2 separate regions of the Homo sapiens genome follow, and region 1 is linked to region 2. The links come from fine-mapping of genetic effects on gene expression. Tissue or cell type: monocytes. Region 2 holds a variant in brackets; the other region holds the start of a gene. All regions are shown on one strand. Distances are between the middles of the regions.

Evidence for each region.
Region 1: PHETA1 starts here. The variant in region 2 is fine-mapped to the expression of PHETA1 in monocytes (Quach 2016, PIP 0.95).

Annotation. Positions count from the first base shown.
Region 1 is chr12:111,365,105-111,373,432 of GRCh38, reverse strand. PHETA1 (PH domain containing endocytic trafficking adaptor 1) reads left to right here and starts at 4,338. Exons shown (of 3, transcript NM_144671.6): 1 at 4,338-4,521; 2 at 7,176-7,320. It overlaps LINC02356 (long intergenic non-protein coding RNA 2356), which reads right to left and starts at 4,172. Exons shown (of 4, transcript NR_187522.1): 1 at 4,113-4,172; 2 at 1,363-1,464. RefSeq lists a silencer at 4,168-4,747.
Region 2 is chr12:111,326,440-111,334,767 of GRCh38, reverse strand. CUX2 (cut like homeobox 2) reads right to left here. Exons shown (of 22, transcript NM_015267.4): 19 at 58-327. Among named protein-coding and RNA genes, the nearest start is that of MIR6760, 26 kb to the right of the region's middle. The variant G/T (reference allele first, on the strand shown) is at 3,409.

The DNA.
Region 1 (8,328 bases), 39 kb before region 2:
GTGTTGCTGAAAAGATAGGCAAAAATGTGGAAGTGACTTTGAAACTGTAACAGGCAGAGGTTGGAACAGTTTGGAGGGCTCAGAAGAAGACAGGAAAATGTGGGAATGTTTCAAGCTTCCTAGAGACTTGTTGAATGGCTTTGCCAAAATGCTGATAGTGATATGGACAATAAAATTCAGGCTGAGGTGGTCTCAGATGGAGATGTGGAACTTGTTGGGAACTGGAGCAGAGGTGACTCTTGTTATGTTTTAGCAAAGAGACTGGCGGCATTTTGCCCCTGCCCTAGAGATCTGTGGAACTTTGAACTTGAGAGAGATGATTTAGGGTATCTGGTAGAAGAAATTTCTAAGCAGCAAAGCATTCAAGAGGTAACTTGCAGGCTGGGAGCGGTGGCTCAAGCCTGTAATCTCAGCACTTTGGGAAGCCAAGGTGGGCAGATTACCTGAGGTCAGGAGTTCAAGACCAGCCTGACCAACATGGTGAAACCCTATCTCTACCAAAAATACAAAAAATTAGCCATGTGCAATGGCGTGCACCTGGTGCCAGCTACTCAGGAGGCTGAGACAGAAGAACCGCTTGAACCCAGGAGGCGGAGGTTGCAGTGAGCTGAGATCACACCACTGCACTCCAGCCTGGGCAACAGAGCAAGACTCTGTCTCAAAAAAAAAAAAAAAAAAAAAAAAAGAAAAGAAAAGAAAAAAATAAGAAGTAAATTGTAATAGAAAGAAAAGCCCATTTTCTGGGGAGAAATTCAAGCCGGCTGCAGAAATTTGCATTACGTAGCAAGGAGCCTAATGTTAATCCCCAAGACCATGGAGGAAATGTCTCCAGGCCATGTCAGAGAACTTCCTGGCAGCCCCTTCCATCACAGGTCCAGAGGTCCAGGAGGAAAAAGTGGTTTTGTGGGCCAGGCCCTGGGTTCCTGTGCTGTGTGCATCCTAGGGAGTTGGTGTTCTGTGTCCCAGCTGCTCCAGCCATGGCTGAAAGGCACCAACACAGAGCTCAGGCTGTGGTTTCAGAGGGTGGAAGCCCCAAGCCTTGGCAGCTTCCATGTGGTGTTGAGCCTGTGGGTGCACAGAAGTCAAGAATTCAGGTTTGGGAACCTCTGCCTAGATTTCAGAAGATGTTTGGAAATGCCTGGATGCCCAGGCAAAAGTTTGCTGCAGGGGCAGGGCCCTCATGGAGAACCTCTGCTAGGGTGGTGCAGAAGGGAAATGTGGGGTTCAGAGCCCCCACACAGAGTCCCTACTGGGGTACTGCCTAGTGGAGCTGTGAGAAGAGGGCCACCATCCTCCAGACTCTGAAATGGTAGATCCACTGACAGCTTGCACTGTGTGCCTGGAAAAGCCACAGATACTCACCACCAGCCCGTGAAAGCAGCCAGGAGGAAGCCTGTACCCTGCAAAGCCACAGGAGTGGAGCTGCCCAAGATCATGGGAACCCATCTCTTGCATCAGCGTGACCTGGATGTGAGACCCGGAGTCAAAGGAGATCATTTTGGAGCTTTAAAATTTGACTGCCCCACTGGATTTCAGACTTGCATGGGCCCTGTAACCCCTTTGTTTTGGCCAATTTCCCCCATTTGGAACGGCTGTATTTACCCAATACCTGCATCCCCACTGTATCTAGGAAGTAACTAGCTTGCTTTTGATTTTACAGGCTCATAGGCAGAAGGGACTTGCCTTGTCTCAGACAAGACTTTGGACTGTGGAATTTTGGGTTAATTCTGAAATTAGCTAAGACTTTGGGGGACTGTTGGGAAGGCATGATTGGTTTTGAAATGTGAGGACGTGAGATTTGGAGGGGCCGGGGCAAAATGATATGGTTTGGCTGTGTCCCCACCAAAATCTGAACTTGATTTGTATCTCCCAGAATTCCCACGTGTTGTGAGTGGGACCCAAGAGGAGGTCATTGAGTCATGGGGGCCAGTCTTTCCTACGCTATTCTTATAATAGTGAATAAGTCTCACGAGATCTGAAGGGTTTATCAGGGGTTTCCGCTTTTGTTTCTTCCTCACTTTCTCTTGCCACTGCCATGTAAGAAGTGTCTTTCACCTCCCGCCATGATTCCAAGGCCTCCTCAGCCATGTGGAACTGTAAGTCCAATTAAACCTCTTTTTGTTCTCAGTTTCGGGTATGTCTTTATCAGCAGTGTGAAAACGGACTAATACATATATCCATTAAATATATATCTATACTTAACCACTTCTCTCCACCTCCACTGCTCCACTCTAAGCCACCACCATCACTTGCTTGGACTACTGCAGTAGTGTTCTCCCTGATCGCCTGGCTTCTACTATCATTCCCTGCCCATAGCAGTCAGGGACCATGTTAAATCTAACACAGACCATGTCCCTCCTCTGCTCAAAACCCTCCCATGGCTCCTCATTCTTCTTAGAGTAAAAGCAAAATCTTTCCTCTGGTCCTTAAGCCCCTAGGTCACCTGGCTTTCTGGCTTTGCCAATAATCTCTGATCTATTGTGTTTTTTTTTTTGTTTTTGTTTTTTTTTTGTTTGACAGAGTCTTGCTCTGTCACCCAGGCTGGAGTGCAGTGGTGCAATCTCAGCTCATTGCAACCTCTGCCTCCTGGGTTCAAGTGATTCTCCTGTCTCAGCCTCCCAAGTAACTGGGATTACAGGTGTACACCACCATGCCTGGCTAATTTTTTTTTTTTTTTTTTTTTGTATTTTTAGTAGAGACCGGGTTTCACCATGTTGGCTAGGCTGGTCTCGAACTCCTGACCTCAAGTGATCTACCTGCCTCGGCCTCCCAAAGTGCTGGGATTATAGGCGTGAGCCACTGCGCCCAGCCAGCTGACCTATTTTCCTACTATTCTTCCCATTGCTCACTTGGCTCCACTGGTCTCCTCGTTGTTCTTCAAACATGCCCAGGATGGCCCCATTTCAGGGCTTTTGCACTTGCTGTTCCCTCTGCCTGGGACCTCCTTCTCCCAGATAACCACATGGCTCCCTCCCTCATTCCTCCAGGTCTGTCCTCAGAGAGGCCTTCCCTGACCACCTTGTCTAAAAGCTGCACTTCCAGCTTGGGCAAGATAGCAAGACCCCCCCGATCTCTACAAAAAATTAAAAAAAATTAGCCGGGTGTGGTGGTACACACCTGTAGTCCCAACTACTTGGGAGGCTGAGGTGGGAGGCTCGGTTGAACCCAGGAGTTCAGGTTACAATGAGCTGTGATTGTGCCACTGCACCCCAACCTGGGTGACAAAAAAACACAAAAAACAAAAAACAAAAACAAAAAAACTGCACTCCCAGGCTTTCTGCCCCATTGCCTTAGCGTACAGTCCTAGCATGAATCACTTCCAGAACTCATTTGTGTTGTCTTGATTCCTGGCTGCACCTGCTTACCTGGTTCAGGTACAGTGCCTGGCACACAGTAGGCGCTTAGTGAGAGGCTGTACAATGGAGAGCTGACCCTGGTCTGTCCTGTTCTTCCTGCTTTCAGGCCAGGACTTAATAGTGATTGGGAGGTGGCGGGTGGTGGAGAAGAGGCGGCAGGAACAGGAAGGAAGGGTTCAAGGAGGTGGGCAGGGCAAAAACAACAGCAATTCCTATTTCTTGAGAGCTTTCTGTTGTGCCGTGCACTTTACATATCATGATGGTCTTTATTTTCCGGATGAGGAAACGGAGGCTTAGAGAAGTGAAATGATTTCTCTAAGCTCACACAGTGTTCAGTGGCCTAGTGCGACTCGAACTCAAGTCTGCCTAATTCCAGAACTTCCTCTCTTCACCTGGAGCCAGGGGAAGCTTGCGAGGCGCCCTGTCCGTATGGAACAGTGCTGTACGCAAATGTCCTGGATTCAGCTGTTTTTTCTGCCACTCACACATTTTTCAGGAATTAGAGCTATTTTTCTAATTTAACTGGGCATTAAATTTGCTAAACCTGGCAACCCAGGTTTAGCAAATATTTTTATTATTTGTAGAGATGGTGGTCTCCCTCTGCTGCCCAGGCTGGTCTTGAACTACTAGGCTCAGGCAATCCTCCTGCCTCGTCCTGGGGGGAGTTCGGACTTAAGCCTAGGACTTCAGCGAATGGCCCGCCCAGGACCCCCAAATGCTTTTGCAGGCTAATCCACGACCTGGGCCAGTCCTTACCTTTGGAATCGCAATGAGCTTCCCGGGCTCCAATCCGCTTTTCTGGGCTAGGGAACTGGGGAGTCGCGAGCCAGGAGCGGACCCTTTAAGAGTGATTTCGAGGGCGGGCTCACGGGGGCGTGCCGGTTCGGGGCCTGCCAATCGGGAGGTGGGAAGAACGCGGGGGCGGGCCCGGCGCGAGCAGGCTGGGAAGGGTTAAAGGGGCGCGCCCGTGGGTCGCGGACTGTCCGGTTGCTCCCGCCTCCTTCCGTCGGATCCGCGCTCTCCCGCGGCTGCGCCGGCCCGGCCGCCCAGGAGACAAAGCGCTGCCGCCGCCGTCGCCGCCACCGGGCCAGTCCCGAACCATGGCCGGGCCACCCCGCAACCTCGCGCCTCCCGTCCCGTCGCCGCCCTAGGCCTGCGCTGCGAGGTAAGGCGGGCCTGGCGGGGGGACATGCACGAGGACATGGGACCCGGGTCGGGCCGCCCTGGGCCTCGGGGTCCCCCGGCCACCTGGAGAGCGCGTTGCGGGGATCTTCCCCGCTGGGACTCCGCACCAGTGGTGACTTCTCCAGCTGCCGAGGCGAACTTGGCCAATGACCACCCTCCCCTCTCTCAGCCCATAGGGACGTCTGCCGCTGGTGGGGACTGCGGATAAGCCCCCCATTCTGCCGCTGATCACCCATCTGGGGCTCTGGCTGTCCTTTAAGGAACTTAAGAGAGCTCCCACGCACAACACACAAAGGGACAGAGAGCAGCCGGGAGCAGGGCCACACCTGGAGCAGCAGCCCCTGCCGTGGACAAGGGGGCTGCCTGTGTCTGGACGGCGGTGCTGGCGTGTCTCTGGGGTCCCTGCTGGGGCGGTGACGGCCAGGCTGCTCTTTAGTGTTCTTGGCACACATGTTTTTCAGCCTGTGCCTGCCACACCCTCTTCCCCACGCCCGCTGCTGGGGGACACTGAGGGCAGCTGGATTCAACCCCAGGACCTGCGGTACTGGCTTCTTTTCGTTGATGTGAGTGCCAAAATGCCATGCTTCAGTCTCCCAGGAGACCTGGGTTCCGGGGCCAGCTGTGCCCCTGGAGATCTTGGATGAATTATTTGCCTTTTTGACAGCTCTTTCCCTGAAAGCTCACTACCCACCAAGTATTTTGCAAAATGACTCTTCAGGAGTCAATTCACTCAGCCCTTAGAGGGATGGAAGTTAACGTCACCATTTTGCAGATGAGGCTGAGAAAAAACTCCGACTCACAGCAGCTAATATTTGCAATCCATTTCCCATAGTTTGCCAGTGGGTTTTCCTTCTTTTAGCTCATGAACCCTCGCCACACAGCCCAATTTAACAGATGAGGACACTGAGACTTGGAAAGGTGAAACGACTTGTCCAAGGTCCTCCAGCCTGGACCTGCGGAGGCAGGAACTTTGCCTTGGGAGCAGAGCTGGGCCAGGCTCCCTCCAGCTTCCTGTCTGGCCATGGGCTGTTGAATCAGCAGCAGTGCCCACAGTGGACTCTGAACTTCTTGGAAAACAGTGTGGGGAGATAAGGCAGGGGCCAGGCCTTCGCTCCAGGCAAGGCTGGCGCCTGTGCCCCTGCAGCTTCCTGTCTTCCCAGTTCTGGTGGAGGCAGGGGTCATGGGCAGAGCTGGGTCCTGTGCCTGCTGGTGACCTTGAACCAGTTTGGCCTCTATCTAGGCAGTCGGGGGAGGAGGGTTGCTGAGCAGGAGGGAAGTTGCTATTCCTTTGGCCTTGATGGGGTGGAGAGACCCCAAGATCAGCCCCTTTATTTGGGTGGCTTGCCTGGAGCATGTGATTCTGGGCACAGTTGTATGCCTCTAGCCAACTTATTGAATCTCCCTGTGTCCATTTCCACATCTGTGAATGTGGGGTGAGATCCCTTGTCTTGGGGCTGTTGAAAGGTTTCAGAAGATACTGCAGAATGAATCAAACAGCTGTGTGAGTACCTACTGCATGCCAGGCACTAGAATTCAGACCACAAACGCCCCTGCAGGCAGAAATGACCCAGGTATTAATTTCAGGTGGAGGCACAGGAGAGGGACTGGGGGGCCTCTTGTGCATAGGGTGGCCAGGGACCACCTCTCTGAGGAGGTGACAGCTAGGCTGAGACCAAAGGATGGGGAGCTGGCCTTGTGAAGACCTGCAGGCAGACAGCCGGGACCAAGTCTTGGAGGTGGGGATGTGTCTGGTGTATTTGAGGAACAGAAAGGAGGCCAGGATGGCTGGAGCTGAGTGAACAAGGGGGAAAGAGGTAGGGAAAGGGAACTTGGAAGCCAAGGGAGGCTTGGATTTTTTTTTTTTTTTTTTTGAGACAGAATCTCACTATGTCACCCCCCAAGTTCAAGGGGTCCTTCCATGTTAGCCTCCCAGATAGCTAGGACTAGAGGCTTGTATCACCATGCCCAGCTATTTTTTTTTCTATTTTTTATAGAGATAGGGTCTTGCTATGTTGTCCAGGCTGGTCTCTAACTCAAGCAATCCTACCCCCTCAGCCTCCCAAAGTGCCAGCATTACAGGTGTGAGCCACCGCACCCTGCCTAAGGATTTAATTTTATGCTGAGAGAAGTAGGGAGCCATGGGAGGGTTTAGAGCAGAGGAGGAGTGTGATTGGACTTAATTTTCACAGGATCCATCTGTGGGAAGTGGATTTCAGTGTGGCTCGGAGAAGAGCTTAGGAAGGAGGCTTGGATCTTACCTTGAGGAACATGGACAGGGAGGGGCAAGGAGACTTATGAGGAGGCTACAGCAGCCATCCCAGTGAATGGTGATGGGGCCTAGAATGGGGAGGTGGAGTGGACAGATTAGGCAACTGATTTGGAAGACGCTGGAGAGGGGGATCAACTGGACTTGATGTGCGATCAGATGCGGGGGTGAGAGGGAAACCAAGGGCCATTTGCTGAGATCGGAAGCACAACACAGGGATGTTTGGGGAAAAGCCAAGAAAAATGTGAACTGCAACCGCGCTCAGCAGGCACTGTGTGCCTGGCCCCATGCTCCGCAAAGTCCATATAGTCACTGTATCATTGTCACAACAGCCCTGACTTAGGCACTGTTACGATCCCATTTTACAGATGCAGAAACAGAGGCCCAGAGAGATGAATAGCCTGCCTGGGGTCCCCCAGCCCAGATGCTGCAGAGCTGACATTTGAATCCAGAGAAGAGCGAGCTGAGGCTGGAGCTGAGCAGAGGGCAGGGAGGCAAGTGGTGGCCTGAGAGGTAGGAGCGGAACTGGGCAAGCAGGGCGGGAGGGTCCTGTGAGAACCGGGGCCAGCATCCACATGGGAGTTGATGGGTGGTGGTGTGGGGAATGCGTGAATCCCTGCGGCTTAGAGAGGGACAGCTGTAGCTGAGAGGCAGGGTGGGGATTCAACACCTGGAGACTTTGGGGGCTCTGGCCTTGGCCTCCCACTAGGTCAGGACAAACTGACCTCAGTTTCTTTTTTTATTTTAAGTTCCATGATACATGTGCAGAACATGCAGGCTTGTCACATAGGTATACGTGTGCCATGGTGGCTTGCTGCACCATTGACCCGTTCTCTAAGTTCCCTCCCCTCACCCCCGATCCCCCAACAGGCCCCGATATGTGTTCTGCCCCTCCCTGTGTCCATGTGTCTCATTGTTCAACTCCCACTTATGAGTAAGAACATGCGGTATTTGGTTTTCTGTTCCTGTGTTAGTTTGCTGAGGATGATGGCTTCCAGCTCCATCTATTTCCCCGCAAAGGACATGATCTCATTCCTTTTTATGGCTGGATAGTTTTCCATGGTGTGTATGTACCACATTTCCTTTATTCAGTCTATCATTGATGGGCATTTGGGTTGGTTGATCTCAGTTTCTAAGTCACAACTCATGTTCCGTCTTCTAGGAAGCCTTCCCTGACTGCCTATGTGGCTGACAGGAGGTGGCAAGGACAACCCCCTCCACCCTAGGACAGGTAGTCTGGCAGGGCCTCACTGCGGTCACCTGCTCCCAGGAGAGCCACCACCCTGACCTCATTCCACCAGGCTCTGAGAAAGACACCACCCAGGCAGGGGAATGAACACTGAGTGCCTACTGCGTACCAGGACTTTATATCCTTTGCTTCTTGAAAAATGTAGCTACCATCCTATGCAGGCTGAGGCTCTGCAGTGGGAGATAAGGCAGGCTCTCAAAATGGCCATGGAAAACCCCAAGGGAAGGTGGCCAGGCCAGGGACGCAGATGCCACCTCCCGACAAGTCCTTCC
Region 2 (8,328 bases):
CAAGTAGGAGCCAACCCAGGTGGGAGGCAGCCTCTCCGATTCCCACCCGCTCCGTACCTAGATTGTTGTCTGTGAGGACCTCCTTCACCCTCTTGGTGATGGAGTACGTGTCCAGCTCGGGGGACATGGCCACGATCTCCTGGATGCCCCCTGGGGCCTGGCTGCCTGAGTACATCTTCCCGCTCAACGAGGAGCTGGAGCGGCCCTCTGGCTGCTGGTTCTCCTTGCTGCTCTCCAGGGACAGGCTCAACGGCTCCTGGGAGCTCTTCTCAGGCTCTGTGGGGCTGGGGGGTGGGGATGGTGAGGACCTTGGTTCTGTGGGACTGGCTGTGGGCCACAGAGAAAGAGAAGGTGGTTACTATAATCTGGCACAGACACATCCACTTTCGGGAGGCTTGCTTCTTACAGCCAAGAGTTGCCAAACACCCATTTTGCAACCACTGTAGTAATAATCGCTCAGGTAGGGACCACCCTGGATGCTAAAACTAGTGGATGAAAGTTTGATGAGGACTGGACTGGGATTTCTACAAAGTCTCCAAGTATCTCCCCACATGATGCTTAGCAATTTTTTTTTTTTTTTTAAGACGGAGTCTCGCTCTGTTGCCTAGGCTGGAGTGCAGTGGTGTGATCTCGGCTCACTGCAACCTCCGCCTCCCGGGTTCAAGCGATTCTCCTGCCTCAGCCTCCCAAGTAGCTGGGACTACAGGCATGCGCCACTACGCCCTGCTAATTTTTTGTATCTTTAGTAGAGACGGGGTTTCACCATGTTAGCCAGGATGGTCTCAATCTCCTGACCTCATGATCCACCCGCCTCAGCCTCCCAAAGTGCTGGGATTACAGACATGAGCCACCACACCTGGCCGATGCTTAGTAATTACAAAGGGAAAAGTAGCCACTTTACAGTACAGAGACCTGGTTGGACTCTCTCTGTCACCCAGGCTGGAGTGCAGTGGTGCGATCTCGGCTCACTGCAACCTCTTTCCCGGGTTCAAGCGATTCTCCTGCGTCAGCCTCCTGACTAGCTGGGATTACAGGCACTGGTGGATACCATCTTAACCAATGATCCAAGTTACTATCACCAATCACAGGGCAAGTCAGCAACATGGGCCTCCTGAGAGGATGGCCTGAGAAGGACATGGCATCACTTCTGTGATATTCCCAGCCCCAAGTACACAGCCCGAATCTGATTTCAAGGGAACATCAGGCAACCAAACTCAGACTGTCCAGGAAATAACAGCCTCTACTCTTCAGAAAGGGCAACACTGGAAAACAAAGAAAGGCAGAACTGTCGAAATCAAAACATGAAAACTAAACACAAGTGATCTTGAATCTCATCCTGCACAGGGAAAAGAAATTTACATATTTTATTTAATTAATTCATTTTGAGACAGGGTCTTGCTGTGTTGCCCAGGATGGAGTGCAGTGGCTTGGTGATAACTCACTGCAACCTCGACCTCCTGGGCTCAAGTGATCCTTCCACCTTAGCCTCCCAAGCAGCTCGGACCACAGGTGTGCATCATCATGCCTGGCTCACTTTTCTTTTTTTGAGACAAGAGTTTCACTCTGTCTCAAAAAACTTCACCCAGGCTGAAGTGCAGTGGCATGATCTTGGCTCACTGCAACCTCCACCTCACGGGTTCAAGAGATTCTTGTGCCTCAGCCTCCTAAGTCACTGGGATTATAGGTGCATGCCACCACACCCGGCTAATTTTTTGTATTCTTAGTAGAGACGGGGTTCCACCATGTTGGCCAGGCTGGTCTCAAACTCCTGACCTCAAGTGATCTACCTGCCTTAGCCTCCCAAAGTGCTGGTATTGCAGGCGTGAGCCACAGCACCTGGCCAAGATTTATATATTGTATCTAAAAATTTATATAGCTCATAAAGGATATTATTGGGACAACTGAAGAAACCTGAATATAGATGGTGGGATACATGCCAGTATTTTACCACTGTAAAATTTCTTGTTTTTGGAAAGCACTTGTTGAAGCATTTAGGGCTAAAGGGACAAGATGTCAATGAATTCCTCAAATGGCAGAGAAAGAGCACGATTATGGCAAAATTAATAACTGTTCAAACTGGGTACAGTGCAGGGAGTTTGCTGTTCTACTGTTTCAATTTTTCTGTAAATTAGAAGTTACCTCAAAACGAAAAGTTAAATAAACGGCAACAACTAAAGAAGTCAGCAATGATCCAGCAATGATCTACAAGTTCAACCACAGGAGATTGGCTGAATAAAATATGGGGGATCCCTGCAGTGGGCTCTTCCGAGGCAATGAAAGAAAATGTAATGAAAAGATGTCCATGGTGCAATGCCACATTAAAAAGCTAGATTGGGGCCGGGTGCAGTGGCTCATGCCCATAATCCCAGCAATTTGGGAGGCCAAGGTGGGAGGATCACCTAAGGTCAGGAGTTGGAGACCAGCCTGGCCAAATGGTGAAACCCCGTCTCTACTAAAAAATACAAAAATTAGCTGGGCATGGTGGCACATGCCTGTAATCCCAGCTACTCGGGAGGCTGAGGCAGCAGAATCGCTTGAACCTGGGAGGCGGAGCTCGCAGAGAGCCGAGATCACACCACTGCACTCCAGCCTGGGCAATAGAGCAAGACTCTGTTTCCAAAAAAAAAAAAAAAAAAAAAGGTAGACAGATTTTTAAACTACATTTTTCATTTTTCTTTTTTTTTGGAGATGGAGTCTCACTCACTCTGTCGCCCAGGCTGGAGTGCAGTGGCATGATCTTGGCGCACTGCAACCTAGCCTCCTGGGTTCAAGTGATTCTCCTGCCTCAGCCTCCCCCATAGCTGGGATTACAAGCGTTTGCCACCACACCCGGCTAACTTTTGTATTGTTAGTAGAGATGGGGTTTCGCCATATTGGCCAGGCTGGTCTTGAATTCCTGACCTCAAGTGATCCACCCTCCTCGGCGCCCCCAAAGTACTGGGATTACAGGCTTGAACTACCATGCCGGGCCCATTTTTCATTTTTCAAAAGACATTTTGTGTGACTATATATTGGAAAAATGATTTGAAAGATATCTGGGGCTTGTGATCTCGGGTGGATGACTTTGCCAAGCCTCCGTCCTTCCATCTGTTAAATGGGGCCATAAGACACGTAGCATTATACATACTACTTGGGGCCATCGAGAGACCTCCATGAGATAACGTGGGGCAAGGGTCCACCTCCACCTCCTCTACCACCTCCACCTCCTGGGGCATTAGAGGCACCCATGGGAGTCCCAGTGTGAGCTGAGCCTCCTGAGAAACCAGGAAAGGTGGGAGCATCCCCAGGGAGGCACCCCTAATGGGTTGGCAAGCATGGTGTGGGGTCTAGGAATCCCAGCACTGGCCACACCTAATCCCAGCACATTAGAAAAAGATGCCTCTTCCTTGAGGCATTCAACTGCCACCT[G/T]CTGGAAACTTGTTAAAATAACCATTAAAATGTATGACAGCTGGAAGAAAAGGGAGCAACGGCTTTACTTTCAGAAGAGACATCCTGAGCCCAGGATGGGTTCCTTCCTTCTCTGTCGTGGGTGAGTTGGTCACTCGGATCAGACCACTCCTATGCTCCAGAATCATCAATGGCTCCCCATTGCCCCTTGTGCAAGAAATGTCTATCACCTTGTCTTGGTGATTAAGGCTCTGAACTCCCTTGTCCCTGCCAACTGGAGCTACAGCATTTCCCTCACTCCCCTTCACAAACATCTAGGCTCCTCTCTAAGCCCCTATGTCTTTGCTCAGGCTGGTCTTGCCATCCTGAGGACTTTCCTTCTAATCTTGAACTCCTATGCATTCCTCAAGATCCAGTCCTAAATGTCCCTTCCCTGAGGTCTATTAGACTTTTGGGGTCTAATAGCACCTTGAATATATATTGTCACAGTTTGCTATAATTTCTTGCTTGGGCCAGATCTCTTCCTTACTGATGACAATGATGATGATGTTAATAAATTCCCTTTATTGAGTACTTACTACATGCCCAGTGTAGTATTATGTGCTTTATGCCTATGATCCCTCTCTCTTTATATATATATATATATATATATATATATATATATATATATATATATATATATATATATATATATGTATATGTATTTTTAAATAGAGATAGGGTTTCACTATGTGGCCCAGGCTGGTATCAAACTCCTGGGCTCAAGTCATCCTCCTGCCTCGGCCTCCCAAAGTGTTGGGATTACAGGCATGGGTCACTGTGGCTGGCCAATGCTCATGATCTCAAGTGACCCTCATGACACCTCTAAGAGGTAAGTGCTATGTCATCCCATTTTATGGGTGAGGAAACCGAGGTTCAGAGAGGTTAGACAACGTGTCCAAGATCACACAGCAATAAATGGCAAAGTCAGGACTTGAGCTGGGGTTGGGTTATGCCCAACACTGTCCTCTCATCTACCAACTGTGAGCCCCTTGAAGGCAAGGACTACAAGTTAGTCACAGGTGAGTCCCCAGAGCCTGGGGGTGGGGCAGGGGCTCTGGGCAGATGCCTATGGAGTAATTTCAGCCAGGATCCCTGAGTACTCCTGAAGAGGGCAAGGTGAAGCCCCCGAGTTCGAAGTAGCAGCATCATGGCCCTTTGTGACCGTGAGGTCTCAAGAAGTCTACTGTGCCCCCAGCCCCAAGTGAGCTGATCCTGGCCATTCAGGTAGCATCCATGTGATGCCAAGGCTGACGTGGGCATGTTCCAGGCTCACTGTTACCAACACTGATGCCATGTTGGTGTGGGAGGGCCAGTCTGGGAAAGTGAGAGTCTGTCCTAGGTGTCTGCCCACTGTCGGCAGCAGGAGAGGGGCTGGGGCCAGCTGGAAAACTGACGGTCTTTGGGCCGGGCATGGTGGCTCACGCCTGTAATCCCTGCACTTTGGAAGGCCAACGCGGGTGGATCACCTGAGGTCAGGGGTTCGAGACCAGCCTGGCCAACATGGTGAAACCCCATCTCTACTAAAAATACAAAAAATTAGCCAGGTGTGTTTGCACACACCTGTAGCCCCAGCTACTCTGGAGGCTGAGGCAGGAGAATTGGTTGAACCTGGGAGGCAGAGGTCGCAGTGAGCCGGGATTGCGCCACTGCACTCCAGCCTAGGTGAAAGAACAAGACTCCACCTCGAAAACAAACAAACAAACAAAAAACACAAAAAACTGAGGGTCTTTGAAGGCATCTCCCTCTTGGAAAACTATCTGCACCCATGTCCCAACCTAGAGGGCCAAGAAGCGAAGCGAACAGGATGACATGGAGATGATTGGCAGGAAAGAACACAGCCACCCCCCAATCCCACTCCCCCAGGGAGAACCCCGCCTTTCTGACTCCTCTGACTGAGAATCGCTTCTGACGAAGTGATGGAAAGATTCAGAAATTATCTCTATCAGGAAGACTGTGCTAATTACAGGGCTGGGGGAGTCACATGTGAACAACTGGGTTATTTGGAGAGGGAGGCGACGACAGGGAGAGGCAGGGTCTTCTTGCCTTGCTGGGCTTGTGGGTGGGGTGCCAGACAGGGCTGTGGGCAGCTGGGGACAGGAGAGAGAGCAGAGTGACCAACCCATCCCAGTCTGCCCGCGACTTTCCTTATTTTACTACAGAAAGTTCCAGATCCTGGGAAATCTCTCTCTCCTGGAGAGATAAGGATGGTGCAAGAGAGATGAAAAGAGAGCACTGGAGGGACAGGGAGGGTCAGGGAGGAAGAGACAGAGCAAACAGAGGGGGAGAGAGATGGTGAGAGAGGCAGGGGGAGAGAGAGAGTGGGGTGGGGGGAGGAGAGGGAGAGGGAGAGAGGGAGAGAGGGGGAGAGAGAGAGAGAGAGAGAGAGAGAGAGAGAGATAGGTGAATCAAAAAAATGCAGAGTGAGAAAAACAGAAAGAAGACAATGGAGGTGACTGGGTGCAGTAGCTCATGCCTGTAATCCCAGCACTTTGGGAGGCCAAGGTGGGTGGATCACCTGAGGTCAGGAGTTCAAGACCAGCCTGGCCAACATGGCAAAACCTGTCTCTTCTAAAAATACAAAAAATTAGTTGGGTGCCTGTAATCCCAGCTACTTCGGAGACTGAGGCAGGAGAATTGCTTGAACCCAGGAGCCGGAGGTTACAGTGAGCCGAGATCACACCATTGCACTCCAGCCTGGGCGACAGAGTGAGACTCTGTCACACACACACACACACACACACACACACACACACACACAAAAGAAATTGGAGGAGAGAGACAGAGATCAGGAGAGAGACAGAGGGAAGACAGGGACTGTGTATGGGGACAGGACAGGGCTTCCTTGACTGCTTGAGAATTCTGAGAAACCTCGGATGGAAGGGTCTGGAATACTGATGCTGCCACGGTAGGTAGCGCCGATTATACCCGGGGCTGCGCCTGGCAGTGGACGTGGGGATAAGGGCGTGCTTTATAACCCTCCCGTGGCATCTGGCTCAACTTCAGTAACAGGTATGGTCAGGGTTCCAGTGCCGGTCCCTGCCCGCCCCAGTGGCCAGGGCATACACAAGCGGGGCTTGGACAGGTCCTGACACCCAGCCCCACAGCCAGACTCTGTGGGACTTTGTGGGCAATGGATACACCCTTTTGCTTCCAGGCCCAGTGGGTTATGAACAAGCAGAGGCTGTGAGGGTGGCTCTGCCATCACCACTCTCTCCCTAGGGCCAGCAGCTACAGTAGCCACCTCCAGGCCTGATTCCCTCATCATTATTATTATTGTTTTTGAGACAGGGTCTCGCTCTATTGTCCAGACTGGAAGGCACTCACTCCAGTTCACTGCAGCCTTGACCTCCTAGGCTCAAGCATCCTCATACCTCAGCCTCCTGAGTAGCTGGGACTACAGGCACCTGCCACCATGCCCAGCTGATTTTTGTATTTTTGTAATTTTGTACAGAAGGGGTTTTGCCATGTTGGTCAGGCTGGTCTCAAACTCCTGACCTCAAGTGATCCGCCTGCTTTAGCCTCCCAAAGTCCTGGGACTACAGGTGTGACGCACTGTGCCTAGCCTTGGCTTCCTATTCTGGGAGAGCAGGGGACCCCGCCACCTCTACTCACATCCCTTCCCAGGCCGTGCATGGTCCCACCTCCTAGCCGCTGCCTGTGCCATTCCTTCCACAAGGAGCACCATTCTCCATCTTCTCTGCTTACCTCTATCCTACCTGTGGTCAAATCCTTCCATGACAATAAAATCTACAACCAAAACAATCAGACATTGGGGAAATGCAAATAAAAACTACAGTGAAATACCACTTACACACCCACCAGGATGGCTAGCGTCAACAAATGGGAGATAACCCATGTTGGTAAGGACCTGGAGAAACAGAAACCCTTTGAACTTCCTCAGTAAGTTAAACACAAGAGTTACCATATGATCTAGCCAACTGTACTCCTAGATATATGTTCGAAGAACTGAAAATGGGGGTTCAAACACAAATATGTACACAAATTTTCATAGGCGCATTATTCAAAATAGTCAAAATGGGGTCTATCCATACAATGGAATATCATTTAGCCATAAAAAAGGAAGGAAATTCTGATGCATACTACAGCCTGTATGAGCCTTGAAAACACGTTAACTGAAAGAAGCCAGCCACAGAAGGCCAAGTAGTACAGGATTCCATCTATATGAAACATTCAGAAGAGGCAAATCCAGACAGAAAGAAAGCGGAATTCCAGGAGCTGGGGGGAAGGAGGATGGGCAATGACTGCTGGATGGGTATGGGGTTCCTTTTTGGGGCGGTGGGAATATTCTGGAATTAGACAGAGGTGATGGTCACACGCATTGTGCATGTATTAGATCCACTGAATTGTATACTTCAAAAATGGTTTAAAAGGTACATTTTACGTTATGTGATTTTTGTTTGTTTGTTTCTTTGTTTGAGACAGAGTCTCACTCTGTCACCCAGGCTGCAGTGCAGTGGTGCCATCCGGCTCACTGCAACCTCTGCTTCCTGGGTTCAAGCGATCCTCTCGCCTTAGCCTCCCGAGTAGCTGGGATTACAGATGCGTGCTACCACACCCGGCTAATTTTTGTACTTTTAGGAGAGACGGGATTTCTCCATGTTGGCCAGGCTGGTCTCAAATTCCTGGGCTCAAGTGATCGGCCCGCCTCGGCCTCCCAAAGTGCTGGGATTACAGGTGTGAGCCACGGTGCCCAGCTGTTATGTGAATTTTACTACAGTAAAAAAGTTAGTTAAAACCTAACACCACAGACCAGGCGCAGTGGCTCACCACTCCAGCCTGGGTGACAGAGTGAGACTATGTCTCAAAAAACCAAAAACCAACCCCCTCCATCACCACAACACTATAAAACAAAACCAACCCCTACCCCACCACAAGACT